Homo sapiens: one gene and its partners. The protein of the gene in region 4 interacts with the protein of the main gene of each other region in a biochemical or structural test. Each region holds a gene or a part of one and is shown on either strand. Other genes may lie near its edges. The genes, in order: CHRM3, ZRANB1, KPNA1, CSNK1A1, GLI3, HNRNPC and ADAP1.

Region 1 (4,193 bases), on a different chromosome or scaffold from region 4:
TCCAGTTTGGTTTTCCAGCACCGGGCCTGTGTTTATTTCTCATGTACTCTGAAGGGCCTTTCTCTTTCTGAAATCTCCTTCACTCCTGAGATTCCTGAACACAGCAGCTACGTTTCCTCATTTCTACTATCTAGGTCTCTGCTTTCATGTCCCATGGGAGGTAATCATGTCCTGTAGCCCCATTTTCAGGACTTATGCCATGCTGGTTTTATTATAAATAATGTAATGCCCAATCATCCCGATGCTATATTCATATTTGTGCTGATGATACTTCTTTCTTCTTTCATCTTTGTTGGTTAAAGCCATGCAGTGGGTATCTACTATTTGTCTTTCTTTCAGCTGTCTTTTTGGAAATAGCCTGTCACCCACAGTATGTAGTTTGGGACAGGCATCAATCAGATGGTCCTCGCTCCTCTACCACAACAATGAACATGAAGAAGACCCAGGCAGGAGGGTTGATTTGGAGATTTGATGTGGATGTTGGAATGAGACAGTGATTCTCTTATATTTGGAATTACTAGGTGCTGATCACCCTATTTGCCACCACATGGGAAATCTAGAGTAAGCAAACATAGAGGAAAGGCATGAAGGAAGGAGAGAGATGGGAGGGAGTATGGGAAACAGAGACAGCATGATGATGATGTCCTTTGAAACCTGAATTTAGCCACTCCTGAGGTGAACACCACCTCCTTGACCTTGCCTTTCCTTTGTTGCCTGGGCTACCAGAGATACTTTCTGTCACCTGCAACTAAAAGGTGTTCTGTCTTTGTCAATATCAGCACAAGCTCATTTAACCACTGCTAGCTTTAGATTATGGTGACTGGTGCTGTGGAATTCAGGGATTCCACAGCCTCTGCATTTCATAAACTCACCCCCAGGTAAGAGATGGAATACAAATAAAAGATTTTTAAAAACACAAAGTTATTTAGGCAATATCAAATTACTCTCTGTGGATAATCACATTATGTTTGTATACATTCAACAGCAATTTAATTTGCTCAGTTGACCTATATTGTTGAAGAATATAAGTAAAAATTTTCGAAATTAGCCTAAGGTCAGTTGTTTTCTTTTAGTTCATTTCATCCTGTGAATCTGAAGAGCCCCCCCAAATGAATAGTATTCTAGTCCAATTATGCTTTGTTTGAATACAGAAAATGAAAGAAGCCAGAATTGAGGAAAGTCAGCTATAGGTGAGTTTAGCTCTCTATATTAGGTTAATTAAATACCTGTTTATCTTTGACCTGTACTCTTTGTCATATCTACCATTGGCCATCATTCTTCTTACACTTTGACATTCATTCAATATCTAATACGTTTCTGAAATTCTCAGAGATGTGCTTTTCCTTATTTAAAAATGTTCCAGTCCTTTTCTGTCATGCAATAGATGTGCAGTATGAGATGAGCAAAAATTTTAAAGGTAGACAAGAACCATTAGAGGGAAATGACTTATAGGCATTTGCTTACCCATGTGATACAACATCCAAAGGACAAGAGTTAATAAGTTAACGAGTTAATAGTCAATAACCATGGCAGTCCTAATGCTACCCTTGGGTTTCCTTCTAAGAACCTCAGATATTAAAGCAACGAGAAAAGAAGGGAATGTGGTATATGAACATAACTTTGAGGAAAATAAAGCCTTTTGAATGGGAAGCAGAAATTTTAAGCAAAGCACACTACTAAAACCCACTGTGACTTCTAGCTACGAAGACAGAAATGTTTAGGAAGTCGTGGGTACTCATTTGGGGTTCTGATGTGATGAGATACATTAATACCACTCTATTAATAAAGATGATGTTCTCATCGTCATTAATTTTTTTTATTAGAAAGCAATAGAGCAGAGTTGAAAAGCTGTGGTCTTTCTTTGGAGTTTTGCTGATTTGGGTCTGAGTTCTGGGTTGGCCCAGGAGATGTATAAACTTACCAAATTACTTGACTATTTTGAGACGACCTTTCTTCATCTATAAAACTAGAATACTATCGCCTGATCTGTAGATTATGGAGAAGATAAGAAGCATTGTGGTGTTGTAGGCTAATACTCTGAAGTATTAACGGGGATCTTGCCTCCCTTCTCCCAATGCTAACTTTTTGTGTTCTCAGGGTTGTGTTGTTACTTTAGAAACACAGGGAGAAAGAAACCAGTGTTTCCTCATTTTTTGCTTTTTAAAGTAGATTTTAAATACTCTGGTAGAGAGAAGGGATTTAAAGATAAGGGCTTTGAAACTGCAAACACTTGGTCTTCTGAGCATCAATGCATGGTATACTGACCTACACACTAGGAAAATAAGAAAAATCTCCCCTTGCCACATCCAGAGTGAATAAATTGATAATAAGTACTACAAAAAGGTGATTTGGAAGTATTAATTAAAACTGAAAAGGCATGTACACCATGAACTAGCAATCCAACTGCTAGGTATCTACCCTCTAGAAATTATTGCATTCGTATGTACACAAGGAGACACGCCCAAGGCTATTAACTGAAGCATTTATTTTTATGACAAAAATGAGGAAAATCTATAAGACCATTCGTTTTGAAATGAATTCAAAAATGAGGTCATTCATAAAAGGGAATACTATGCAGCAGATAAAAGCAATCAACTAGATATATATTAACTTAGAACCATCTAAAAATACTTTGTTAAGTAAGAAAGGCAAGTTGTGGGATGACAAATACAACACGATAAAATTTAGTTTACAATAAAACACAGCAATAGTATACTAAAGATTGTACATGCCTGTATACTAAAGGTTGTATACAGACATATAGACAGATACCACCTTTAGTATATTAATATAATTAAAATTGTCATAGAAGGATAGAAAGATTTACATGCAAATCATATATTAGCAGTGGTATTTTGGAGGAGGAAGATAAAATTAGGATTGAGGGTGATGGACAAAGAAGACTTCAGCTCAATCTGTAATGTCCCGAATGAGGAAAAAAAAAAAAATCCCAAAGTTTCCGAAGCCAGAAGGAAGTGAAGAAGAGAGTTAAAAGGGGGCAGATATTGGTGATGGTTGCCAAGGAGGGCTTGGAATCTTGCCTTACACTCTGCTGTTGCTTTTAAATGCGGAGAAGGTTGGAGGAAAAAGAGGTCGCATCTGATAATATTGATCAGACTCAAAGAAGATGCGTGCCTCATGCCCTCCTGTCTGGTGCCCAGAGGTGGCAGCTGCTCAGAGGTCACTAGGTCACCATGGCAGAAGCACCGATGACCTGAATGCCTGTGGTAATGAATTCTTCCTTAGTCTTGCCTAAGACGTAAACTCAGCTGGGCGAACACCTTGATTTCAGTGTTGAGACCCTGAACAGGGAACCTTGTTGTAAGCTGCTAAGTTTGTGGTGATTTGCTATGCAGAATGGGGCCACAACAGGCAGCTTCGAGGCAAGTTATACAAAAATGAAATGACTGATCTTGCTCGCCTGAATACGATGGATTAAAAATATTATACACACTTTACATGTAAATGAGCAATGTATTGTCTCACACATAAGAAATCCTAGTTCTACTTGGGTTGTGGATTTTCTCCCCTCATTGCTGTAGGGGCCTTTCTTGCCTTCGTCCCTCCAAGGGAATATTCAGCACCTGCCATACCTCTTCTGAGCACACTGTCTTTTCTCGACAGCCCAGGTGAGGTACATTCCTGGTGCTCCCCAATCTATTCATATCAAGGCTGTACCCAGCTTTATCAAGGAAGACAATGTCCCTATAGGGCCAGGAAACAAGATCCCTCCCACCTTCTTTCAGACATTTTCTATGAACTTCTCCGAGGCCTTGGGGCCACGGCCTCATTAAAAGGACTGTTCTCTGGAGGCTCAGCAACGGAGGTCCTATCGGTACCCAGGATGACAACAGGAGAAAGTGATCAGCCGGTCATAAGGATTTCAAAAAAAAAAAAAAAAAAGAATATCTAAAAGTACTTATTAGAAATGAGAGTCACCAAATGTTTTACTTCAGGTATATCTATTATTTCATAGGTAATATGTAACTTCCTGAGAATCAAGACTGTAGGTCAGACCCAAATGAAGCAGTGATAACCCCGGGCTAAGAGCCCTCAGTTTACGGTGATTTTCTGAGTAGAAGGTATCATTCCTATGTTTAATATTCCTTCCTCATCCTGACTCAACAGCTATTCCATAGCATTAGGATATTTTGAGTCAAGGAAGTTCACAGTCTACACTCATTGAATTGAAT
Region 2 (4,193 bases), on a different chromosome or scaffold from region 4:
CAGTGAGGACCTCATCTCTACAGAAAAATTTTAAAATTAGCCACGTGTGGTGGCACACTCCTACAGTCCCAGCCACTCATAGGAAGCTGAGGTGGGAGGATCACCTGAGCCCAAGAAAGTGAAGGATGCAGTGAGCCAAGATCGTGCCCCTGCATTTCAGCCTGGGTGACAGAGCAAGACCCTTTCTCAAAAAACAAACACCACCACCAAAAACCCTCATCACTAAAAAAAAGACATCACTTCTAAAATCCACAGTGTACTTTTGGCCTTTCAACAGATCAGGAAATTACCACCAAAGAAAAGGCCAGGCGCGGTGGCTCACGCCTGTAATCCTAGCACTTTGGGAGGTCGAGGTGGGCGGACTGCCTGAGCTCAGGAGTTCGAGACCAGCCTGGGCAACATGGTGAAACCCCATCTCTACTAAAAATACAAAAAATTAGCCAGGTATGGTGGCGCCACCTGTAATCCCAGCTACTTCGAAGGCTGAGGCACGAGAATTGCTTGAACCCGGGAGGCAGAGGTTGCAGTGAGCCGAGATCATGCCACTGCACTCCAGCCTGGGCGACAGAGTAAGACTCTGCCTCAAAAAAAAAAAAAAAAAAAAAAAAGGAAATTACCACCAAAGAAAAGATTACTGGCTGCCTTTTTAGAGAGAACCTGCAAAGTGGTAGATTTACCACAGTTCAAACCTGGCTTTCCATCTTACAGGGCAGAGTGACATTAACCAAAACTACAAGGCAGACCTGTGAAACCACAATGCCAAGAACCCACTGTCTTAGGAACCAAACCAGGTTCATCCTCTTGACATAGACAGGCCCATAGCAGTGGTCAAGAAAATCAGCAGTAGGAAGCTAAGAAAATCAGCAACAGGAAGCTGCTTGGTGACCACAGGATCTGATCAAGAGGGCCAGACCGGCAGAGCACTGACCAGCATCAGGCTTACCCAGCCCGATGAACCTACTTCATACTACCAGACAGCCATCTCCACTAAGAGGCACAAAAGAGCCCTCTCTCCAGGACAATTACTAATTGACTAAAACTACCGGAGTGACACATTCATTCTTTAGCTTTATTATACATCCAGTCAGGTCATCCAGGAAGTTATTTTATTTCTCTAATGTGCCCACAAATTGTTACTCTATTACGTTATGCTTCCCCCTCCGCTCCCCACAAGACAGTCTCACTCTGTCACCCAGGCTGGAGTGCTGTGGCACGATCTTGGCTCGCTGCAACCTCCTCTTCCTCCTGGATTTAAGCAATTCTCGTGCCTCAGCTTCCTGAATAGCTGGGATTATAGGCATGCACCACCACACCTGGCTAATTTTTGTATTTTTAGTAGAGACAGGGTTTCAACAAGTTGGCCAGGCTGGTCTTGAACTCCTGGCCTCAAATGATCTGCCTGCCTCAGCCTCCCAAAGCAATAGGATTGCAGGCATGAGCCACAAACCCCAGCCATACTGCATTATGCTTTGATCTACAATTTAGCTCTCAAGAAAGTAATTTATAGGCCGGGCACGGTGGCTCATGCCTGTAATAACTAAATGAGATAATGTTCAAAGAACCAAAAAAATACCACATAAGTCAAACAAATGTAAAGACTGAACTATTCATTCACAAAAACAATTATTTTTCCAGTGATTGCATGCTGTTAAAAAATATATATATAAAGAACACTTTGATACAATTGAAGAAATGTGATTATGAACTGTTAGATAACAGAATCAATGTTGAATTACTTAGATGTAGGAATGGGGATGTGGGTGAGTAGGACAATATTCTTATTCTGGAAAGATGTATGTTGATATTTTGAAGGGTAAAGCATCATGATGTCTACAACGAATTGACCCACGAGTCTTTCTGTATGGAGACATGGAGCAGGTGTGGCAAAATGTTAATAACTGCTCAACTGAATGAAGAAAATACCAGGATCTATTGCACTGAATTTTTTTAAAATTATTCCATGGGTTTGAAAATTTGCAAAATAAAAAATGTGATCTTAAGACTCCCTCAGGAAGGAAAAAAACTTGTAACACAATGTCAAGATAACCTCTTATGTGAACACAAATATTCAATAAGGCTGGGTGCGGCAGCTCAGGCCTGTCATCCAAGCACTTTGGGGGCCCCAGGCAGGCGGATCGCTTGAGATCAGGATTATCAAAGCCACCCTGGGAAAGATGGCAAAACTCCATCTCTACCAAAAATACATAAAACAGCCAGGCATGGTGATGAGCACCTGTAGTTCTAGCTACTCAGGAGGCTGAGGTGGATGGATGGCTTGAGCCCAGGAGGTGGAGGATGCAGTGGGCCAAGACTGCACCACTGCACTCCAGCACAGCAATTGAGCCAGACCCTGCTTCCATCGATGGATCAATCAATCAATCAGTCAATCAATCCCTAAAAAGATGAGCAACGGCCTTATCAATATTTAAGGCTACTATATATAACTTGAAATGCTGCATTTGAAATGTTCAAATATACTGCCTGTGTCTTATAGAAACAATAAATGCTTGCATTTTAAAGCTTCAAATGTTTCTATTTTAAAATTTAGCAAAAAAATGTATAAAAACCATTGATTCTTGCTTTTATCTCATTTCTTGGGGGAAAAACAAAAACAGAAACCATGGACGTGTTCAAAGTATTTTAATGTCCAAAATGAACTGTTTTTCCTCCAGTTTCCATAGAAAATATAACTGACATAAAAAGTATCCCACCACTACAAGGAAATAATCCAGCAAATGCACTCCTGGGTTGAAACAGGGCAGAATGCCAGCTCACCAATGTGAACAGTCATGCAGGCTGTCATGCAGGGCTTTCCGAAGCACTGAGTCCTTGTCATAGATGCCCCAGGTAGCTTGTAGAACTGAATCAAGTAGGCAGTCTCCTGCAGTCCGGTTCCAAAGTGCATACAGTCGACTGTCCAAACGTGTAGCCAATTCCAAGGACCAGTTAATAATTGGAGATTCTTCTTCTAATTCTGTACGATGGATTTAAATACATGTTCATTTCCATACCTATGTCATTAGAGAATACTCATGGGGAGAAGAACCTATTTTCTAGCTATAAAATGGTTTATATGTAATTTACCAATAAACACCTAAATAAAATTGACCAATTGAAATATAAACTTTTGAGTACTTGAAACATCTTCTGTCTCTAGAATAATTTAATAAACTTTTAAATTCTTTACAGTTTTATTTTCTAAAAAGTGTTTCATATAGAAATATATACATTCTGGAACAGGAAGCGGAGAACCAAGGTTTTAAAATTTTTGTATCTTTATTTGTTCACTCTGTAACAGTGAACCATACAATATAACACTGAACTTCAGGACTTTACGTCTTTAATTTAAAATAAAAATAAAGCAAGTTGACTACACACCAAACTACACCATGCCTTACTAAACAAAACTTACTTGATCAGATGAAAGGTAAATTATACTCATTAATTCCATGCTTACCTTTTTGAACGTCTCTATCAAGCACCTCATCAAATAATTTTTCTTGGACTGTTGGGGGCAAATCTTCAATATCTACAAAGAAAATGCAAACTTAAAAGATCTTTTGTTTCATAACTTACACTTAACTTATACTTAATTACACTTATTAATTACCTACTAGTAACTTTCTCTAAAATAACTCCCTTTCCATTGAAGGTTATCAGATAGCTTTTTCTTAATATACCAGTGTAACATGTGTGATATAAAATATTTCTTTTCTGGGCCGGGTGCAATGGCTCACGCCTATAATTCCAGCACTTTGGGAGGCTGAGGCCAGCATACTGCTTGAACTCAGGATTCTGAGCCCAGCCTGGGCAACACGGCAAAACCCTGTCTCTATACAAAAAATATACAAAAATTAATCAGACAAGGCAGCAGACACCTGTGTCCCAGCTACTCAGGAGGCTACGGTGAGAGAACTGTTTGAGCCTGGGGAGGCCAAGGCTGCAATGAGCCGTGATCCTGCCACCGCACTCCAGCCTAGGCGATAGAGTAAGACCCTGTCTCAAAAAATAAAAATAAAAAATAAATTTTTAAAAATCTAATCATTCTGGGGTAAGCTTAAATACTCAGAACAAGTGCATTTCAAATGAAACTTCCTCCAGTTTCAGAAAACTTAGTTACTATCTCCTACAATTTGTAAAAATCCGTTTGTCTGAACATAAAAATTAAAAACACTGAGATCTAGCCTGAGTAA
Region 3 (4,193 bases), on a different chromosome or scaffold from region 4:
CACTGCAAGCTCCACCCCCCGGGTTCACGCCATTCTCCTGCCTCAGCTTCCTGGGTAGCTGGGACTACAGGCGCCCGCTGCCACGCCCGGCTAATTTTTTGTATTTTTAGTAGAGATGGGGTTGCACTGTGTTAGCCCAGATAGTCTCAATCTCCTGACCTCATGATCCACCCGCCGCCTCCTCCCAAAGGGCTGGGAGTACAGGTGTGAGCCACCGTGCCCCGCCTACTTATTTAGCTTATACAGAAATGTTTGTAATCTTATGTATATACACATTAGCTTACATAATCAAATGCATTGTTGCTATTTTAAACAAAATTTTACCTGCTAAATCAATTTTTAAGATGTTTTAATTTTACATTCACTTATTCATTCTTTGATGTTCTTCCTTTATGTAGATCCAAGTTTCTGACCTGTATCATTTCCTTTTTGCCAAAGAATTTCGTTTAACATTTCTTGCAAAGCAGGTCTACTGACAATAAATTTCCTTAGTATTCTGAAAAAAATCTTTATTTTTGTTTCCACTTTTGAAGGATGATTTTGCAAGGTTCAGAGTTTCTAGGTTGGTGGTTTTCTCTCTCAACACTTCAAATATTTCACTTCACTTTCTTCTGGCATGTGTGGTTATCATTCTTATCTTTATTCATGTGTTAAGTACAGTGTTTTTACCCTTGTCTTTTAGGATTGTTTTTCCTTTATTTCTGATTTTCTGTTGTTTGAAAATGATATCCCTAGGTGTAGTGGGATTTTTTTGGCCTTTGTCCAGCTTGGTGTTCTCTGGGCTTCCAGTGGTTTTGTTCCCAGACCAAACTGGGTTGGGCTGCTGTTTCTCATGGCCCAATAACAAGATGCAGATGAACTGGGGAGGAAGAGAGTTTTTATTTTTGTACCTGGTTACAGGGAGAAGGCCTAGAAATTATTGCCAGACCAACTCGAAATTACAAAGTTTTCCAGATATTATATACCTTTTAAGCTATATGTCTGCGTGTAAGTGTGTATTCATCTAAAGACATAAGTGATGAAACTTCTTTTAATCTGTAACTAAGGTCTGAGTCTTGAAGACCTTCCTCTGGAGTCTCAGTAAATTTACTTAATCTAGGTGCTGAGGTGATTACCCTTATCTTGTCTCCTGCTCGTGGAGGTTTGGGGAGTTCTTTCAGACATCCAATAAACTTGTTTGTGGAGGCCTGGGGAATTTCTTTGTTATGCTTTAAGGCCCAGGAAAGGCCTAGGCAAAACTCTTGGTGGGCTTTTGTTAGATTCCAGCCTTTGTATAAGGGCACTGGCTTTTTTTAGCTTTTAATATTTAACTTAACCAGTCAGTCAGTACTGAAACAGTTGTTATGGAGCCCTGCATTAATGAGACATGGCCTGCTACAGTTTGGTGTCTGATACTAATTTGGGGGAAATTCTCAGTCATTATTGTGTCAAATATTTCTTTTGTTCTTTCCTCTCCTCCTGATAGTTCCATTCCATGTTTATTATACCATTTGTAGTTGTTTCAGTTCATAGATACTCTGTTCTATTTGTGTCAGTCCTTTTTCTGTTTTCTTTTCAGTTTTAAAGATTTCGAATGAGATTTCCTTAAGCTCAGAGATTATTTCCTTAGCTGTGTCTTGTTTACTAAAAAGTCGATCAAAGGCATTCTTCATTTCTGTTGTTGTTGATCTCTTGCATTTCTTTTTAGTTCTTTTTTAGAATTTCCATCTCTCTCCTTACATTGCCTATCTGTTCTTGTATGCTGTCCACTTTATCCATTTAAAGCCCTTAGCATATTAATCGTAGTTTTAAATTCTTGGTCCGATAATCTCAACATCACTGCCGTGGCTGAATCTGGTTCTGATACTTGCTCTGTCTCTTCAAAATGTGTTTTTTATATTTTAGTATGCCTTGTAATTTTTTCTTGATAGCTGGACATGTACTGGGTAAAAGAAACTACTGTTAAATAGGCCTTTGGTAGGTGGTTTTGGTATTAAGAGTAATGCTGATCTCCTAGAATGAGTTGAGAAGTACTGTCTCTGCTTCTGTCTTCTGAAAGAATATGATTATGTGCTGATTAGTATTAAGTTAAATCTCAGAGAGAACCTCCTGTAGATCTTGGGTGTTCTTTTTGTGTTGTACTCTGCGTTATGAATTTTAGGTCTCTTGGCCTTCTCAGCTCTGAACTGTGTTTTCTCAAATCCAAGGAGCATCTAAACTCTGGTTGAGTTTACCTTTCCTGCACTGCAGCCTGGAACTGTCTGCATAGTAATCTGAGGCAGTATTGGGGCTTATCTTGGGTTTTTCTTTCTGAGATATCACTACTCTGTGGTTTTTATTGTCCAATGGCTGAAACATTATTTTATGTATTTTGTCTGTTTTTAGTTGTTCAGCGTGAGAGAGGGTAAGTTACTGTTACTCCATCATGGCTTGATGAATAAATGTGCTGCCCAGGATTCATAAGGATATAATGGTAATCACCCTCGTTGGCTGACTTTGGAGAGAACTAGTCTCCTTTGCCTATACACATTAACGGAGCTGCTTTAAAGGTAGTGCTTAAGCAGTCATCATTTGTTGCCACTGGTTGCTGGATAGGTTGGGAAGGTCAGAAGCCACAGTCCACCATCTTTGGAGATTAGGAGGGAAGTATTAAGTCATTTGAACATAGTTTTTATTTTCATTTTCCTTGGTACATTGTTAGGACTGTCCTGATGTATACTTTACATAAAGGGATGAGGAAAATGGCCAAGCATGACCCAGCTCCTTTTTCCAACCTTTTTTTTTTTAATGTCATATAGTGTCAGACCTCTCTTAGTAAGTTTTACATTATCAAGTGTTGTTTATAGCATGTTGTAATAGTTAATTATATTTGATTATAAGACTATGGAGAAATCTGAAATGGTTACTCATCAGTAAAAGCTGACAGCTTTAGAATTTTAAAAATGATTTTCAAAGACTTCACTTTGAATGGGGTGCCTAGTATTTGAATGTTGAACTCCCTTGTGTTAGAATTTACATTTACATTGCTACCAATCTTTTATCTTTCAGTTATTCAAGCGGAGAAATGTTGCTACAGCAGAAGAAGAAACAGAAGAAGAAGTTATGTCAGATGGAGGCTTTCATGAGGCTCAGATTAGTAACATGGAGATGGCACCAGTAAGATAATGAACTCTTTTCAGTGTTTTTGTGATGAAGATATGAGATGTAGATTTCCTTTTGAGTTTTAAAAAAGGTTAGATGGCTACAAAAAGTACTTGGCATTTCATTTTTAAAAAGAATATGCTTAATCTCATGGTTCATTAAATGTTTATTATATTTTGGATAAAGTGCAGTTAAATTATAAAGATTAATTCTGCTCTAAAAACTTAACAAGCTAATTATAAGATAAAATTACTCTTTAAAAGTTGAATAAGAATAGACACCTTATTTATTTATTTATTTATTTATTTATTTATTTATTTATTTATTTATGTTTTAGAGACAGGGTCTTGCTGTGTTGCCCAGGTTGGAGTGCAGTGGCGCAATCGTAGGTCACTGCAACCTCGAACTCCTGGGCTTAAGTGATCCTCCTGCTTTAGCCTCCCAAATAGCTGGGACTACAGGCATGTGCCACCATGACTGGCAAATTTTTAAATTTTTTGTGGAGACAGGATCTCACTGTGTTGCCCAGGTGAACTCCTGGCCTCAAGTGATCCTTTTGCCTTGGCCTCCCAAAGTGCTAGAATTACAAGCTTGAGCCATCACACCAAGCCATAAGAGATACTTTAAAGAAAATAATGATTTTTTATTGATTTACAAAATTGACCTGTTTGTATGATTTAAAAACTTGATTCCACATCAGAACTCTTGGATTTTTCTGTTGTAAACCATTTTGTTACTTTTTTGAAGTTAACATGAAGAGATAAAAGTCATGCTTTATTTGTATGGATTAGACCTATCTAGATTTCTAGAGTATTGTAATTACGTAATTTTAAAAATAGGTTATATATGTGTACATATATATATATGTGTACACACACACAGTTTTTTTAAAAAGAAAATTATCTCCTAAAAGGTACTGTTGTTTGTAGTAACAAAAAAAGTACAATTAAAAAAAATGAAGAAAAATCTTTCTTCCGCTTAGCCACCTAGTATTTTTCTCCATTGGCAACTAGTATTACTAAATTCCTATTTATTCTTTCTGAGAACTTTTGTATATTAAAATGTTCTCCTCT
Region 4 (4,193 bases):
ATTGCACCTGGCAGATTACTTGAATTCTTTGTTTTTCTCTTTTGAGACAGAGCCTCATTGTCACCCAGGTTGGAGTGCACTGGGGGGATCTCAGCTGACTGCAACCTCCGCTTCCCAGGTTCAAGAGATTCTCCTGCCTCAGCCTCCCGAGTCGCTGGGATTAAAGGTGAGCACCACCTCACCCGGCTAATTTTTGTATTTTTAGTAAAGATGGGGCTTCACCATGTCGGGCAGGCTGGTCTCTAACTCCTGACCTCAAGCGATCTGCCCGCCTCGGCCTCCCAAAGTGCTGGGATTACAGGCGTGAGCCACCGTACCTGGGCGGATTACCTCAATTCTTACTCTCTTCCAACTAAGAGTTTGAGCCACATGTAATCTATTCCCCCCCCTTTTTCAAGACCAGTTCTGGGTTGTGCCTAAGGAACCCTACCCTAGTTTAGGACTGCTACCACTTGATCAGACTCCATGACTATGTGATATTTTAATTGCTTTTTATTTGGTACTGTACAAAGTTGGAGAGTTCCAGAAGGCACTGACAGCCACTTATATCTAATATGAATTATAACTATTCTGGAAAAGTTACATTCTACTTTGAGTATGATTCAACTCTCTATCCACTCCAAACTAAAATCACCTATTTACACTACAAATAGAAAAATGCCAAATTAGTCCCAAATAAATCAGTTTCTGAAACCTTTTATTCATGTTAGCTAGATCTGCTTTACTTTAGTATTTATCAGAATGAATTTGTTAGGTAAATTTAACCAATTTCCCTCACAGAGTTTATAATCTTAAAATACCTTAAAAACTGACCTGAAAAGAATGCGGAATAGCTGCCTCAGATACATGTAATCTGGGGCTTCCTCAAAGCGTAGCCCACGACAATAGTTTAAGTACATCGCAAATTCTGCAGGAAACCCCTATAGGTTCAAGGGTTAAAACAAAGTTAAAAACAAACATTTCAAGATAGAAAAATAAATGCATTTAAGTATAAGCAAAAAGATATTTTTGGGCGGGATATTTTACCATTTCATAGGAAGATATGAGAGCTAAAATGATGGCTTGGTCTCCTCATAAATTTAAATAAAATTTCATGACCCTACCTACCCTATTATGTACAATATTAGTAGAAGAAATACATATGTTCTTCCCATATAGTGCTTTTCCTATACAGTACTATGTTCTTAAATAACTTACATAGCCCACTTGTTAAAACCTGTCATTTTATCAAAGTCGCGCCTCTTCGTGAACTTTTTTTTTTTTTAAAGACAGGGTCTCAATCTGTCTCCCAGGCTGGAGTGCAGTAGTGTAATCTCAGCTTACTGCAACCTCCACCTCCCAGGCTTCAAGCGATCCTCCAACCTCAGCTTCCTGAGTAGCTGGGACTACAGACACGAGCTACCACGCCCAGCTAATTTTTTGTATTTTTTAGTAGAGACAGGGTTTTGTCAGATTGCCAAGGATGGTCTCAAATTCCCGAGCTCAAGAGATCTGCCCCCCTTGGCCTCCTTGGTCTCCCACAGTGCTGGGATTACAGGTGTGAGCCACCATGCCCAGCCTTCAGAAGTTTCTAAATGGTTGCATGATATTCTACCTAGTATATACATCATTAACTTGTTCTTTATAATTGAACATTTGGATGTATTCTAATTTTTCTCTATTATTAATAATACTGCTAAGTACATCTGTGGGCATAGAATTTTTCCATTTAGCTCCTTAGGAAAGATTCTCAACAATGTATAAACATTTTCAAGGCTCTAGGTATCAGTCACCAAAAGGATTTCCCCAATCAGCAATGTGGAAATACAAAATATTAAAAGAGCACAAACCTCTATATCTCCTCTCCTAGAGTAAATGCCAATGTGGAGAGTGGTAAAGTTAAAGGAGGCAGTCTCTTTCTACAACCTTATGATTGTAGAGTTAAAGTTACAATCTCTTTCTACAACCTTATGAGAAATTTCTCATGTCCTGGAGTTAGGAAGGATAGAATGGAAATGCTTGCAACATTTTTTATTGATTGCACCGATATAAATTGGGTGACCACTTGAAACATATACATATGTTAAAAGATGTAAAATAATACATATTATACATCTTTCTAAAACTCAACATTTATATACATTTATGGCCCGTGTTAATGGTAAACAGTATGACAATGAGACTGAAAACAATCTCACCACTTTATAATTACTATTTTAACTCTCACTGATTTCTTCCCTCAACTATTTATTTGTATACTGCTTTGTACTTAATTTCAGGTATACAATTCTTTCTTGTCTGAAAGACCATATGGCCTTCTTTTTATGGATGAGATCATGGTTATTCATCATGACACAAATACCTCTCTATTCTAAACTCAATTGCCTTTCTATGAAGTTGAAAATTTCAGAAAAAATGAGTGTGATTCAAACTGTCTTCTGTATTCCTGTATTGTTGGACAGCTGCTATTTTGGATTGCTCCAATCTGTCTGCATGTTTCCCTGTTCCTTAATGTACTAATTGTTGATAACCTTTCTTTTCCAGCACTAGTTTAGGGTAAGGAGAATATTTCTTACTTTTTCTTATAGATTAATGAGGTTCTATTGAAAATGTTTACCTGCCCTGTTTATTTACCCCTAGTTTTCAACAGATTAGAGAGCCCTAACAAACCAGAAACATAAAACACTTATTTTACTTACTTAAAACGTTTATTTAACTTATTTTTTATTATTTTACTTATTTTTGTTGTTGTTGAGACAGGGTCTCACTCTGTCACCCAAGCTGGACTGCAGTGGTGCAATCTTGGCTCACTGCAGCCTCGACCTCCTGGGCTCAAGCATCCTGCCCCAGCATCCCCAAGAAGCTGAGATTACAGGCATGCGTCACCATGCCAGGCTAATTTTTGCATTTTTTGTAGCGATGGGGTTTCACCATGTTGCCTAGACTGGTCTGGAACTCCCGGGCTCAAGCGATCCACCCTCCTTCAGCCTACCAAGTGGCTCCTCAACTGTGAGCCACTGTGCCTAGCAAAACACTTATTTAAAAAGACCCCTATGTTAAAAGTCCTTGTTAAAGATATTTAGAATAATAAAAATGTAAATTTAAAATGGTGAATAGCTACCTAATTCAATGTTACAAGTTCCAGAGCTGGCAAATAAAATGTTCCTTTTTCTTCCTGGATCATTCATTCATTCACTCATTTGAGACAGAGTCTTACTCTGTTACCTAGGCTGGAGTGCAGTGGCACAATCTCAGATCCTTGCAAGACAGCCAAGATTCACCACTGCAATTGGAGCCTCCCGGGCTCAAGTGATCCTCCTGCCTCAGGCTCCTGAGTAGCTGGGACCACAGACGTGTATCACTGCACCCAGCTAATTTTTGTATTTTTGGTAGATAAGGTATTTCACCATGTTGCCCAGGCTGGTCTTGTGGAACTTCTGGGCTCAAGTGATCCGCCCACCTCGGCCTTCTAAAGTGCTGGGATTGCAGGCTTGAGCCACTGTGCCCAGCCGGATCATTTATCTATTAAGGTAGAAATGGGGTTTCCCTATGTTGCCCAGGCTGGTCTTGAACTCCTGGGCTCATGTGACCTACTGCCTTGGCCTCCCAAAGTGCTGGGATTACAGGTGTGAGCCATTGTGCCTGGCTTCATTTATATTTTTTTAATATTCATCATGCATACTTACCTTACATAAAACTTCAACAGGCGTGGACATCTTCTTTTCACTAATCTTTTCATATTTTTGTTTCTTTGTTGCAGCCTGTGGAAAAGAATAAAATAAAAAAGATATACTCAGTGCTACTGAGAAGAACCATGGTAGTTTAACGCACTAGACATATAAACATATACCTGTGAGATTCAAGAGAAATTTTAACCCAGAATTTAAAAAATCAAAGTATAATACATCTAAAAAAAATTTTTCCCAAACTGTTAACTTCTGATGTAAGTTTCTTCTCTAAGAATTTAATTTTAGCTATAGGGAAAGGGTGAGTCTAATAGGAATATATGGATATTAGATTTAAGTAAAAATGGCTGGGGCCAAAATTGAAAAGCATTTTCTTTCTTTCTATATATTTTTTTAAGGAGATGGGGTCTCACTATGTTGCCCAGGCTGGAGTGCAGTAGCCATTCACAGGCTCAGCAGTAATTCCCTGTGGCCTCCAACTCCTGGCCTCAAGCAATCCTCCTGATTCAGCCTATCAAGTAGCTGGGA
Region 5 (4,193 bases), on a different chromosome or scaffold from region 4:
AAACACATCTCAGTTAGGTGAGATGAGATTGCTAAAATACATACAGAACTAAAAAAACAGCCAAAACAAAGTCAGTTTAATCTCTTCAACTCCTATTGATTTCCGTTGGTTGCAGTCTTTTTTTCCTAAAGCCTATTGCATAACTGCAAGGAATTTGCTTTCTTCCGCTAGGGAGGTCAGCAAAGAACTCATGTCCCCGATAGCCATGTTGGTGGTGCTCATGGACAGCGCTGGGAATGGGAGGGACGCCCGAGGCGTGGTGAGGCGGGAGGAGCTATGGGAAAGGTTCTGAATGATACTTGGGCTCAGGGCCCCCGACATCAGGCTGGAGTGGTCCCCATCGTCTATGATGGCATCGAAGTCAATCTGTACCCCTTCCAGGTCATGGCTGTCGAGGCTGTCCACTGTGCTTGTCACCTGATTAGCACCTGGGGAAAGTAACTCAGAGTTTTTGGCGCTGGTCCCCTGTAGCAGGCAGCTGGCGTCTGAAATAGAGAATGAACCAGCTTTCGTGTCTTGCTGACTGAAGCCCACGGTTTGGTCATAGAACTGACCAGAGTAATTCTGCAGATTAGAGCACAGCGGATGGGGCTGCCCTTTCATCTCCATCTTGATACCATTCACCCTGCAGGTCTGACTTGTGTCACTGAGCTGTCCTGACTGCAGAGCAAGGCTGTCCCTCGGCATAGCCTGGCGCCTGCTGCCCCCAAAGCTGGCACATGGCTGGTAGCCCCTGACAACTGCCAAGCTTGACGGCTGGCTGCCCATGCCGTGAGCCCCTGGCAGGCAGCTCTCTGGCCCTTGGTAGATGTTGATGTGTGAGGTAGCACTAATCTGCCCAAGCATCTGCTGACCGGGGCGGCCTGCCCCCGGGTGCTGCATGCTGTCGCCGAGGAGCTGGTGAGCCAGGTACCCCTGTCCCACTGGGTCCTGGTTCTGCATGCCATTCACCATGCTGCCAGCTGACTCATTTGGCGCTACCGGCAGGCCGAAATTCAGCTGGCCCCCGCTCCCTTGCATGGGGGTGCTCTTCAGCTTTGAGGCTTGAATCCCGGCACCACAGGCACCGTCGAGTGCACCAGGGGCCACTGGCTGCCTGTTGAGACAGTTCCCATACTGCGGGGCCTTACAGGGCTGTTCATGGAAGGCGTTTCCACTGGTGCCACTTCCGGGGCTGTTGTGGAGCATCAAGTGCTCTGGGCCACCGTAGGGGTTGCTGTTCTCCCCGAGGGTCTGATAGCCCCCAGCAGGCCCGCTCCTCAAGGGGTTCTGCGGGTGGACGACCATGCCGTTGCAGAACCCAAAGGCGCGAGTCTGCGGCACAGCGGGCCGCGGCCCACACTTGAGCTTGGAGGAGGACAGGTCGGCGCTTCCGGAGCTGACTTCGTTCCACTGAATGGGCAGGTCGGTTTTGCTGCCCTCGGGGCAGGGCTGCTCGAGGGCATGGAACTGCTGGCCAGCGTGGCTGTCTGGCAGCCCGGGCGCGTCAAAGTCACCGGGCCCGTGGGGCACTTTGCTGTCGTCCGGGAGGGCGCTGGGGAAGTGCTGCTCGTACCCTGCTTGGTTCTGGGAATTTAAATACTGCACCACGTCGTCCGGCAGGAAATCCTCATCGTTCAGGTTGGCATCAGCGTCCATGGTCAGGGACTCCAGGGTGACGTTCTCGGTGATGCTGGGAGGACAGGGGGACGAGTGGAAGTTTCGGGACTGGCCGCCCTCGGGCCGCGTGTAATTCTGAAGCACGAGACTGCGCTTCTCCGCGGACGTGGCCATCGCCGGGGGGTTGCAGCTGCTGAGGCTGCTGAAGCGCGGCACACGAGGCAGGGCCAGGCCCTCGGAGCCTGTCCGCACCGGGTCGCTGGCCCTCCTCACGCCGTGGCCCGGCGCATCGTGCGGCTGCAGGTGGCGCCGCCCGTAGCCGTGGGCTCCCCCGTCGCTGCACCTCCTCGGGGCATGAACTGGAGGCAGGGCCACGCCAGGCTCGAGGGCATCCCCGAGCAGCGCCAGGCGCGTCTTCAGGCTCATCCTCTCCATGTTGGGCAGGGGCGTCGGCGGCGGCCCTCCTGTGGCAGCCGCGTACTTGGCCTTGAGGCGGTACTGCTGGGCGGGCGTGAGGCTGAGCAGGCTGGGCAGGCCGTCGCTCTGGCTGGCTTCGCTGGAGCGGCGCGAGGCGTCGGTGGAGATGGGGTCGTAGGAGTCGGCCACGCTCACGTTCTGCGGCCGGCCCTCGGCCTGTGACGCCTCGCTGGAGCGGCGGCTGGAGAAGCAGGGCGAGATCCCTGAGGAGCGGCGGCTGCTCAGGTAGGCCGAGCTGATGGTGCTGGCGCTGCTGTCCCTTCTGTTGAGCATGTTCAGCATAGTGACGTCCACCCCAGAGAGGTCGCTTCTGCCCGGGAGAAGCGTCATGGGCCCACCCAAGCTGCAGGTGTTGTTGGACTGTGTGCCTGGAGACAGAGAAAGGGAGAGACCATGCGGAGATGAATTCCCTTCGAGCATGACTTACACCAGGCATGAGCAACCCTTTTCTGTAAAGGGCCAGCTAGGAACTATTTCTGGTGTCCCAGGCCACATTGCCTGCCTCACAACTACTCAGCTCTGCAGTGTAGCCCCAACACGGCCACAGAGAGCAGTGAGCAAGCAAGCGTGGCGGGGTGTCCATGAAGCTTCCTTTACAAAAACAGGGGCGGCTGGAGATGGCCGCAGGCTGTAGTTTGCTGATGCCTGGCTTAAACAAAACAATAACAACTCCCTCGATTCACTGAAGCCCCTCCCCAAGCGCTGTGCAAGGACAAAAAGAATCTTGTGATGGTACACAACGCTTGAGTTCCAGGCAAGTCCCCAGGCAAAGGTACTCCACGAGTTTCACATTCACGCTCAGGGCGTCCTGTTCATGCCACATCCTACCAACAGGTAACACCTGTGTTGGTGCAGGCAAGAGCTTCACCCCTTAGGTGCTCTCAGAAGTGTAATCTCAGAAGTGCAAACTGACCTGGGGACTGACAGTGGGGAGGGATTTCTGACTTTCCTTGAACTGGGTAAATATAAATAAAAGTGGCTGCTAACCTCGTGGTTTTAAATTTTGGAAACCAGAGACAGAGTTCCAACCACAGATGCCTCCACTGCTGGCATTCCCTTACCCTAATCTAACAGTTATGATTTCACCATCAGAATATGAGTCATGCACAGTCACATTTTTTTCTCAATATTATCCTGTTCCTAGCTGTTTTTAAAATATGGACAATCCCAAAAGGCAACTTGAATGGGCTAAACATTAACGGATGGTTACAGCGTCATTTTAGGACTGGTGGAGAAACTAGCAAACATAAAACTGAGGGCCTGCATTTAAAAGAACAGAAAAAAAAACCCTGAGCAGATGCATGGTCTGATGTAGAACTCACCATTTCCTATGAGAGGAGAGACCGCAGGGGCTTTAGGGGGTAGAATGGGGTTCAGTCGCGGAAACATTCCATTCACTTGTTTTAGCCTTTCTAGTTTTACGTGCTCCATCCATTTGGTCCCTGCCGGGTTTCTCCTGGCTTGCAAAGCAAGGGCTGTGGTTGCAGTGGAAATGGTTGAGTCCATGATTGGGGTTTCATCGATGGCACTGAGGTCTCCTATACTACCTCCATCGGTCAGAGGAAGCTCGAGCCCACTGTTGGAATAGTTGCTGATGGGGGACTGTTGGCTGCTGCATGAAGACTGACCACCAGGGCTTGGCTGAGATGTCTGTTGGGGTCAAGTGGAAAGGAAAGAAATGTCACCAGGGAGGGTCAAGGAAAGGGAGCCAATAATGAGAGCTCATGCATATCGAGATCTTCAAGATCATCAGTTGGTTGAATGAGAAGAAAAACTATGTTCTGGTGAATGGAGCTGGCCACTTTTGGCCAGAATGACGGATGGACCACCAGGCTGATGGGCAACAGGAGGCAATGGAAAGCAGAGAATGCTAGCTGCAGTGTGACTGGCATGGTATCAGCCATGGAATCCTGCCCCAATCGCCAACTCTGCAGACATACTTCCTCGGTTCCAATCCCATCTCCACCACTTTATTCTTTGGGCACATTACTTAGCCACTCTAAACCTCAGTTTCCTTATCTATAAAACAGGGACCATTTATTTCAGGGATTGTTGTGAGGAATTAAGTGTGAAGCCCAGAGAGCACACAAGTATAAAAAGACCTGGATAATAGCAAT
Region 6 (4,193 bases), on a different chromosome or scaffold from region 4:
CAAGAAAAGACTTTTTAATGAGAACTATTTTCAAGAAGACTGTCACTGTATACTGCTAAAACTTGATACACTCATAAAAAACATCAACTAAGAGTCCATGACATCCCTGAAATTATACCAACAAAAGTGTGAGTTTATTAAACTGGTCTGAATTGAGCCATGACAAAGAAATAGGATAATAATACACAGAAACACAACCACGTCCTTAATCTTTTATTAATGATTCTCAACTCTGACTGGACAAAAGAACACATAGAAAGCACTGAAAAATATACTAGTACTTAAGAAAGTCTGCATAAGACCAGTTGTGTAAGAATCCCTATAGGAGAAGCTGGCATGAGTATATTTTAAATGTGGTCAAGCAATTACCATGTGCAGAAAGGGTTAAAGGGCAGATGCTTCAGACAAACTCACTGGGTTTCAGTGCCTTCAAGACACCTGACCAATAATTAACCCATCTATGCCTAATGTTCCATTACTGGAATGCTAAGCTTGTCGGAGTTATTTATATCCTACTGCATTAGGTCATTACCAAGGTCTGATTGCAAAAATTCAAAAAATTGCAATTTCAGGAATAAATGGGCTGAGTTCACTAGTAATGTCCTGATTTATTTTCAACTGGAAGTTCTCCATTGATTTTTATTTTGTTTTATTTTTTGAGAAGGAGTCTCACTCTGTCACCCAGGCTGGAGTGCAGTGGCGCGATCTCAACTCACTGAAACCTCCACCTCCCGGGATCAAGCAATTCTCCTACATCATCCTCCTGAGTAGCTGGGACTACAGGCGCGTGCCACCACGCCCAGCTAATTTTTGTATTTTTTTAGTAGAGACGGGGTTCCACCATATTGCCCAGGCTGGTCTTGAACTCCTGACCTCATGATCCACCTGCCTTGGCCTCACAAAGTGCTGAGATTACAGGTGTGAGCCACCGTGCCCAGCTGATTTTTATTTTTTAAGAATTTCAAAAATTTCAACAAAAATAAAAATGAAGAATTACAGAACTCCTTAGTTTTCAAAATGTTCACACATAACTGTAAAAATCTGAGGAAAGGGCTGGACACAGTGGCTCACACCTGTAATCCCAGCACTTTGGGAGGTCAAGGCGAGTAGATCACCTCAGTTCAGGAGTTCGAGACCAGCCTGGCCAACATGGTGAAACCCAGCCTCTACTAAAAATACAAAAATTAGCCGGGAGTGGTGGTGCATGCCTGTAACCCCAGCTACTTGGGAGGCTGAGGCAGGAGAATTGCTTCAACCAAAGAGGCGTATGTTGCAGTGAGCCAAAATCACGCCACTTCACTCCAGCCTGGTGACGAGAGGAAAATTCCGTATTTAAAAAAAAAAAAAAAAAAAATCAGGCCAGGCGTGGTGGCTCACGCCTGTAATCCCAGCACTTTGGGAGGCCAAGACGGACGGATCATGAGGTCAGGAGATCGAGATCATCCTGGCTAACACGATGAAGCCCCGTCTCTACTAAAAATACAAAAAATTAGCCGGGTGTGGTGGCGGGCGCCTGTAGTCCCAGCTACTCAGGAGGCTGTGCCAGGAGGCGCAGCTTGCAGTGAGCCAAGATTGCGCCACTGCACTCCAGGATGGGCGACAGAGCGAGACTGTCTCAAAAAAAAAAAAAAAAAAATCTGAGGAAACCGCTAATGTCAAATGAAAAAAACATTTTGATGATGCATTAATGATGCTCAACCACACCATTTTATTATGGCATTCAAGGCCCTTTACAATCTGGATTTGAATTCCTTTTCGGGCCTTACTCTTCTGGCCTTCTAATGACTACGTACCATATTCTGTGAGGTTATTTCTCAAACAGAAAGTCTATACTTTCATGTCTGACACTTTCAGTGTATACTTTATGGTATTTAACGGCTGACTTGATTCCTTTACAACTCCCATGCATGACTGATTAACTCAGTTCAAATGTTAAGCATTCCCCAATCAGTAATTTTTATTCCAAAATCAGACTGAATTGTTATATACAGTAATAACATTAAAATACTAATGACTGGAATACTGGCATTATAAGACAAATAGTATATAAAGTAATATGCTTTATATATTGCATGTTTAAAGTCTATTGCATACAATAGTTTGCTCCATATACTTACATATACTGCATGAGTTTGAACGCGACAAGCCAAATAAGTCTTAACATTTCCTTCATGTTAACTGAGACTGATGTTATCAGAATGTCAATGTGGTAACACTCTTAAGCACATCATCCTATTTCCTGTTAAGCATTTGCTATCAACAGTTCTAAATCTGTTACCCAAAGCCACCCATAACCCAGTCCCTAGTCACCACACTCAGCGAATTTTTTTGTATTTTTAGTAGAAACGGGTTTCACCACGTTAGCCAGGGATTATGAAATAATGCATTAAAATCAGTATCACCCTACCTAATAATCTACTTAATGATTTAGAAAAAGGTGTTTTTTTGTTTTGGAGTTAGGGGAGTATGTTTGAAAACATCTTTGATGTTCATCACCACAAACCAGAAGAACGAAATGGTTCTCACTAAATAGCTGTTTAGCAGAAATACAAAACATTTTAACATACCTATCATAATAGTCCCGTTGAAAGTCATAGTCCAAGTCAAAAGAGGAGCTGAAAAATAAATACCGAAAAGGGTTAATTTGGAAATGTTTCTACTAATTCACAATGTCAGGTGAGGGGAGAACCATGCCAAATAAACCACAACAAATAGATCAACAAGATTAGCACTGAATGATCCCCAATCATTCATACAATAAATCACTCAATTCCAATCACCTTAGACCACTGGAAATGTAGCGGTCAAATTGGAAATTCAGGTTAAAATTCGCTAAGATTTCCACATACGACATAGCTAAACTAAACACTGAAAAACAGAATGGTAAACTAAGCATTCTTATACCACACTTCTACCCTCTCTTACTCTCTAGTGTCTTAGAAGCTCAACGATCCTGTATAAGTATTTCAGGTTATGCTATAAATATCAAACTACTCTTTAATATCAATAGCAAAAACCTCAGGGATTTTTAATTCTCTAGAAATTTTCTCTAGGGCAAAAAAGAGACATATTAACACAAAAATAATAAAACCTTATTTATACACAGATAAAACACAGTACACTTAAACCTCCCCACACCCAGAAAACAGAAAGAGAAGATGCCCACTGATGGACACAATGCAGTTATAAATAATAAAGTTCCGGACCTGAGTAGAGGGGACGGAGAAGGGTGTTCTGTTACTGACCCGTACATCTCCGCTGCAGATCGTTTCACACCTGCTTTTCCTCGGTTCACTTTTGGCTCTGCAGCCAGGTTAATATCTGAAAAACAAAAGTAAAAATGTTAATGACAACTTTGTATCCGGGTAAAACAAACTACAAAGTTTATTTTTTTTATTTTTGAGACATAGTTTCGCTTTCTCGCTCAGGCTGGAGTGCAGTGGTGTCACCTTGGCTCACTGAAACCTCTACCTCCCGGTTCAAGCGATTCTCCTGCCTCAGCCTCGAGAGTAACTGTCACTACAGGCGGGCACCACCATGCCCAGCTAATACAAACTACGAAGTTTAGAAAATCACACAGACACATAAATTAGAAAATGTGGAACAAAACAACTCATCTTTCCTTAAGACACTGTCTCACTGTCATACAAGCTGGAGTGCAGTGATGCAATAATGGCTCAATACAGCCTAGACCTCCGAAGCTCAGGTGATCCTCCCACCCAAGTAGCAGGGACCACCACGCCTGGTTAATTTTTCTATTTTTCGTAGGGACGAACTCTTGGGGTCACGTGATCTGCCTTGACCTCCCAAAGTGCTGGAATCACAGGTGTGAGCTATCAAGCTCAGCTTCATCTCTCCTTTTAATATTAAAAAGGCTCACAAATTTTTACAAGGCTAAGGCTTCATCTTCCGTTTCTTTGTAGTCTGTTCTTTACCATTCAAGTGTTCCTGAGACTAACATTAAGTCTGTCTTTGGTACTCTCCACCCTCAGATACCACTTCAACTCAACTCTCCCCATTCAAGGTACTGACTGTTCACTCAGTTACTATTACAAGAGAAAACTATCACTGGTTGCCTTTCCAAGAATGGTTCAGCTCATTCCGAATTATTACAAATATATTAGAATGAAATATATTAAAATATATGCCAATTCACAAATTAACATAGTGAAGTGTGACAACCTCAAATCATC
Region 7 (3,334 bases), on a different chromosome or scaffold from region 4:
CCCTAGGGTGGGCCTGGGACTGGCCAAGGGCTCACCCTGACGTGCCTGCAGCCCTCCTGCCTCACTCTAGAACTTCAGCTCAGCCAAAGGGGAAAGCGGGGAGGGAAGGGGTGGCAAGCAGAGGCAGAAATGTGGATCCTGCGGAGGCTAAGCCAGGCCTGGGCCCTGACCTGGTGGCCCGGGGTGAGGGGAGCACAGAGGGGCACAGCCAGGGAGGGGCTCGGCCTGAGCTGCACTTCTGAGGTCCCCTGCCTGGTGTGTCCTGCCCTAGCTGGTGCCAAAGCTCTCCAGGAACTACCTGAAGGAAGGCTACATGGAGAAGACGGGGCCCAAGGTGGGTGTGCCGCACGTGCGGCCTGGGGTGGCCTGGGGTACGCCATGGTGGGTCTCGGACTGAAGTGCAGCAGCCTTGCCAGCTGCCGCCTGTGTTTTAAACTGGTGTCTGGTGGGTCCTCACAGCCCCTTGTCTGTGCCTGGCCGGGGTCCCCGAGGACTCGGGCCACTGTCCTAGGCTTTGGTTAGACCCTCCCTGCCCGCTCACGTCTGACCAGCTTCCTCACCCACGGGACCGTGCACCTGCGCGGCCAGGGGCCCACATCTTGCCATTCCCTGAGGCATAATGTGGGAGGGAGACACAAATCCTGGGAGTCTTGGTGGTCCCGGAGGAGAAGTGCAGGTGTGAGGGCTCGTAAGTGAGGCCTGGGCCCCCATCTGGGGCCCAGGGAGGGCTGGGGGACCTGGAGGAGCAGGAGGGAGGTGCCGTGTGGAGGCTGGAGGACAGGCGTGTGCGGAGGCCTCGTGGGGCGTGGCCAGCGGCAGGCGTGAGTGAATGGAGGTGACTGACCCGGGCCAGTCTGGGCCCTGCCCTCCGGGGTGTGCTGTGGTCAGCTGGATGTAGGGCCTGCCTCGGCGACCTGCCGGTCACGGGCCCTCTCTGACCCACAGCAAACGGAAGGCTTCCGGAAGCGCTGGTTCACCATGGATGACCGCAGGCTCATGTACTTCAAAGACCCCCTGGTAAGGAGGAGCTGTGGCCCCAGCACGGGAGGGCAGCTCACTGGCTGGGGTTGCCAGATGCGTGACCAGGAGGGCGGGTGGCCTCCCGAGTCCTGGCCTGAGTGAAGCGGGGCTGGAAGGGACATGGCCCCGCCTCCAGTGCGGTCCCCACCCACAGGACGCCTTCGCCCGAGGGGAAGTCTTCATTGGCAGCAAGGAGAGTGGCTACACGGTGCTGCATGGGTTCCCGCCGTCCACCCAGGGCCACCACTGGCCACATGGCATCACCATCGTCACGCCCGACCGCAAGTTTCTGTTTGCCTGCGAGACGGAGTCCGACCAGAGGGAGTGGGTGGCGGCCTTCCAGAAGGCGGTGGACAGGCCCATGCTGCCCCAGGAGTACGCAGGTGAGGGGGGCGGGCGGCCGGCGGCCTGGAAGGGCTCCCAGCTCCCCGCCGCTGTGACAACGCTGGACCCTGTTCCGTTGCAGTGGAGGCGCACTTCAAGCATAAACCTTAGCGAGTGCGGCTGGAGGACCACGGACATTGGACTCACTGTGGCTGGACGGAGGGGACCCGTGGATGGGGGGGCTCTGGCGTCCTGAGGCCACCTGGCCCCACCTGCTCCTCAGGGCAGCCCGGCGCGGCCAGGTAGGGCCCGAGCTTCAGCTTCCAGGATGCTTCTCTGGAACCTCAAGGCAGGCAGCCCAGGCCCTGGGCCTGATCTCTAACCCCGTCATGCTGCTGCTGACCACACCCAGCCAACCTGCCCCTCCCTGACCCGGGGCCCCCTTTCCTCCAGGGCCCAGTCTGGCTCCCGAGCTCAGACACAGCCCCCAGGAGCCGCCCACCACGGCTGTGGGAACTTCCAGGCCTCAGCGCAGAGCCCTGCTTGGGGCCAGCACGGTGGGCAGCTGCCGGCCGCTGGGGACTGGGCCCTGCTCGCATGCCGCCCCGCCCTCCCCCCACCTCCACGACTATTTATTGAGCGCCTGTTGTGTGTCACGGGGCTATGAGGGCCGTGGGGTGTTTGGGTGGATTATCCACACAGGTCCCGGCCCCTGCCCGGGCTGGAGTTGCCACAGCCTGTGCTCCTGGTCCTCACCTGGAGGGGCCAGCAGGCTGCCGTCCCACCACACGTGGCCTCTGCGCCCAGCACGGTGCTCGCCGACAGTGGTGTCTGAACCCTTGGGGACGAGGGCCTGGGCCGCGGTGAGGCCACCAGAGGCAGGAGTGGCCCTGGGGGTCCCGGGCACTGTCGCGCTTGCTGCAGGCGGCCCAGCCGTGTATTTATTTTTCACCTATCTCCTTCCTGTCAAGGCAGGCCGGGCTCCAGGGCTCCCCTTGCGTGGGGCATGTAGGTGGGGGAGGCGTCTGCAGGTCACCTGGGGGGCCCAGCCCTCTCCCAGCCTTGCCTGGCTGAGCTGTGTTCCAGGGGAGCCCTGGACAAGCCCTCATAGGCAGGGAGGGGGTTTCCGAGGCCAGGCATCCGCCGCCCCGTGTCGCATCCTGGAATAAAATGTGGCTCTGGCATGGTTCCAGCTGTGTGTCCGAGGATGGAGTGGGGAGGAAGTTGGGCTGGGAACACGTGGCCCTGCCTCCCTGGCTTCAGGAGAATCTTCGTCTGCTCCCAGGGACCTGACAGGGCCCTCGCTCCCTGAGGTTTGGAGGGAGGACACGGTGTCTGAGCTAGTCACAGCGCCATGCTCCTTGTACACGGGAGACGGTCCCTACCCGAGGTGCCCCCCAGCACCCCTTCCCCAGGTGCCCCCCTTCCCCAGGTGCCCCCTCCATCTGAGGCCCGCCAGGCAGTTCCTGGGCAGAGTCCACAGCCTGAAAGCCAAGCCAAGCTCAGCATGAAGGACAGTGTGGGGGATGCATCCCGGGTCGGGGGTCCCCTGTGCCTGCCAGCCCACCCCCCCAATGCTGGGCCCCTCAGCCCTCACACAGAACATGCTGAATCCCACTTCTCCAATGAGGAGCTGGGACTCTAGGGCGGAGTAGAGGTCTCCCAATCCCAGCCTAGGGGTCCCCAAGGCAGCTGTGCTGGTGACGAGGATGTGGGCGAGGTACCCCCACTTGGAGCTGAAACCCCAGGCAAGTGCCCCGCAACCTCACCAGGTGCCACGGTCCTAACCCGAGGTGAGAGGAGTGGGCCTGGGTCAGGGAGAGCCCTGGGCTGTGCTGGACACACCCCCGGGGGAAACCAGCAGTGCCCACAGCCCTCCCCATGGCGTGGAAGTGTGGGCACGTGCTCAGTGTGTGCGTGTCCCCGAATGTGCACGTGTCCACGTGTGTGCTGAGGACACTGACGACTGTCACATTTTAAAAACCACAGA

The links.
Region 1: the proteins of CSNK1A1 (region 4) and CHRM3 form a complex in vitro, tested with the Homo sapiens proteins (one study listed by BioGRID).
Region 2: of the proteins of CSNK1A1 (region 4) and ZRANB1, one has a biochemical effect on the other in vitro, tested with the Homo sapiens proteins (one study listed by BioGRID).
Region 3: the proteins of CSNK1A1 (region 4) and KPNA1 form a complex in vitro, tested with the Homo sapiens proteins (one study listed by IntAct).
Region 5: of the proteins of CSNK1A1 (region 4) and GLI3, one has a biochemical effect on the other in vitro, tested with the Homo sapiens proteins (one study listed by BioGRID).
Region 6: of the proteins of CSNK1A1 (region 4) and HNRNPC, one has a biochemical effect on the other in vitro, tested with the Homo sapiens proteins (one study listed by BioGRID).
Region 7: the proteins of CSNK1A1 (region 4) and ADAP1 form a complex in vitro, tested with the Homo sapiens proteins (one study listed by BioGRID).

What each region holds. Positions count from the first base shown.
Region 1 is NC_000001.11:239,900,088-239,904,280, reverse strand, and holds part of CHRM3 (muscarinic acetylcholine receptor M3), read right to left. Parts: intron 1-4,193.
Region 2 is NC_000010.11:124,972,981-124,977,173, reverse strand, and holds part of ZRANB1 (ubiquitin thioesterase ZRANB1), read right to left. Parts: intron 3,530-4,193; coding exon 3,458-3,529; intron 2,975-3,457; coding exon 2,776-2,974; intron 1-2,775. UniProt on the Homo sapiens protein: Ubiquitin thioesterase, which specifically hydrolyzes 'Lys-29'-linked and 'Lys-33'-linked diubiquitin. Also cleaves 'Lys-63'-linked chains, but with 40-fold less efficiency compared to 'Lys-29'-linked ones.
Region 3 is NC_000003.12:122,466,264-122,470,456, reverse strand, and holds part of KPNA1 (importin subunit alpha-5), read left to right. Parts: intron 1-3,027; coding exon 3,028-3,135; intron 3,136-4,193. UniProt on the Homo sapiens protein: Functions in nuclear protein import as an adapter protein for nuclear receptor KPNB1. Binds specifically and directly to substrates containing either a simple or bipartite NLS motif.
Region 4 is NC_000005.10:149,506,214-149,510,406, forward strand, and holds part of CSNK1A1 (casein kinase I isoform alpha), read right to left. Parts: intron 3,741-4,193; coding exon 3,666-3,740; intron 921-3,665; coding exon 814-920; intron 1-813.
Region 5 is NC_000007.14:41,964,198-41,968,390, forward strand, and holds part of GLI3 (transcriptional activator GLI3), read right to left. Parts: intron 3,727-4,193; coding exon 3,399-3,726; intron 2,445-3,398; coding exon 133-2,444; 3' UTR 1-132. UniProt on the Homo sapiens protein: Has a dual function as a transcriptional activator and a repressor of the sonic hedgehog (Shh) pathway, and plays a role in limb development.
Region 6 is NC_000014.9:21,227,752-21,231,944, forward strand, and holds part of HNRNPC (heterogeneous nuclear ribonucleoproteins C1/C2), read right to left. Parts: intron 3,322-4,193; coding exon 3,246-3,321; coding exon of another isoform or gene 3,207-3,245; intron 2,616-3,206; coding exon 2,568-2,615; intron 1-2,567. UniProt on the Homo sapiens protein: Binds pre-mRNA and nucleates the assembly of 40S hnRNP particles. Interacts with poly-U tracts in the 3'-UTR or 5'-UTR of mRNA and modulates the stability and the level of translation of bound mRNA molecules. Single HNRNPC tetramers bind 230-240 nucleotides.
Region 7 is NC_000007.14:897,102-900,435, reverse strand, and holds the end of ADAP1 (arf-GAP with dual PH domain-containing protein 1), read left to right. Parts: intron 1-271; coding exon 272-334; intron 335-945; coding exon 946-1,017; intron 1,018-1,174; coding exon 1,175-1,403; intron 1,404-1,486; coding exon 1,487-1,515; 3' UTR 1,516-2,536; downstream 2,537-3,334. UniProt on the Homo sapiens protein: GTPase-activating protein for the ADP ribosylation factor family. Binds phosphatidylinositol 3,4,5-trisphosphate (PtdInsP3) and inositol 1,3,4,5-tetrakisphosphate (InsP4). Regulates the incorporation of CD63 and CD9 into multivesicular bodies.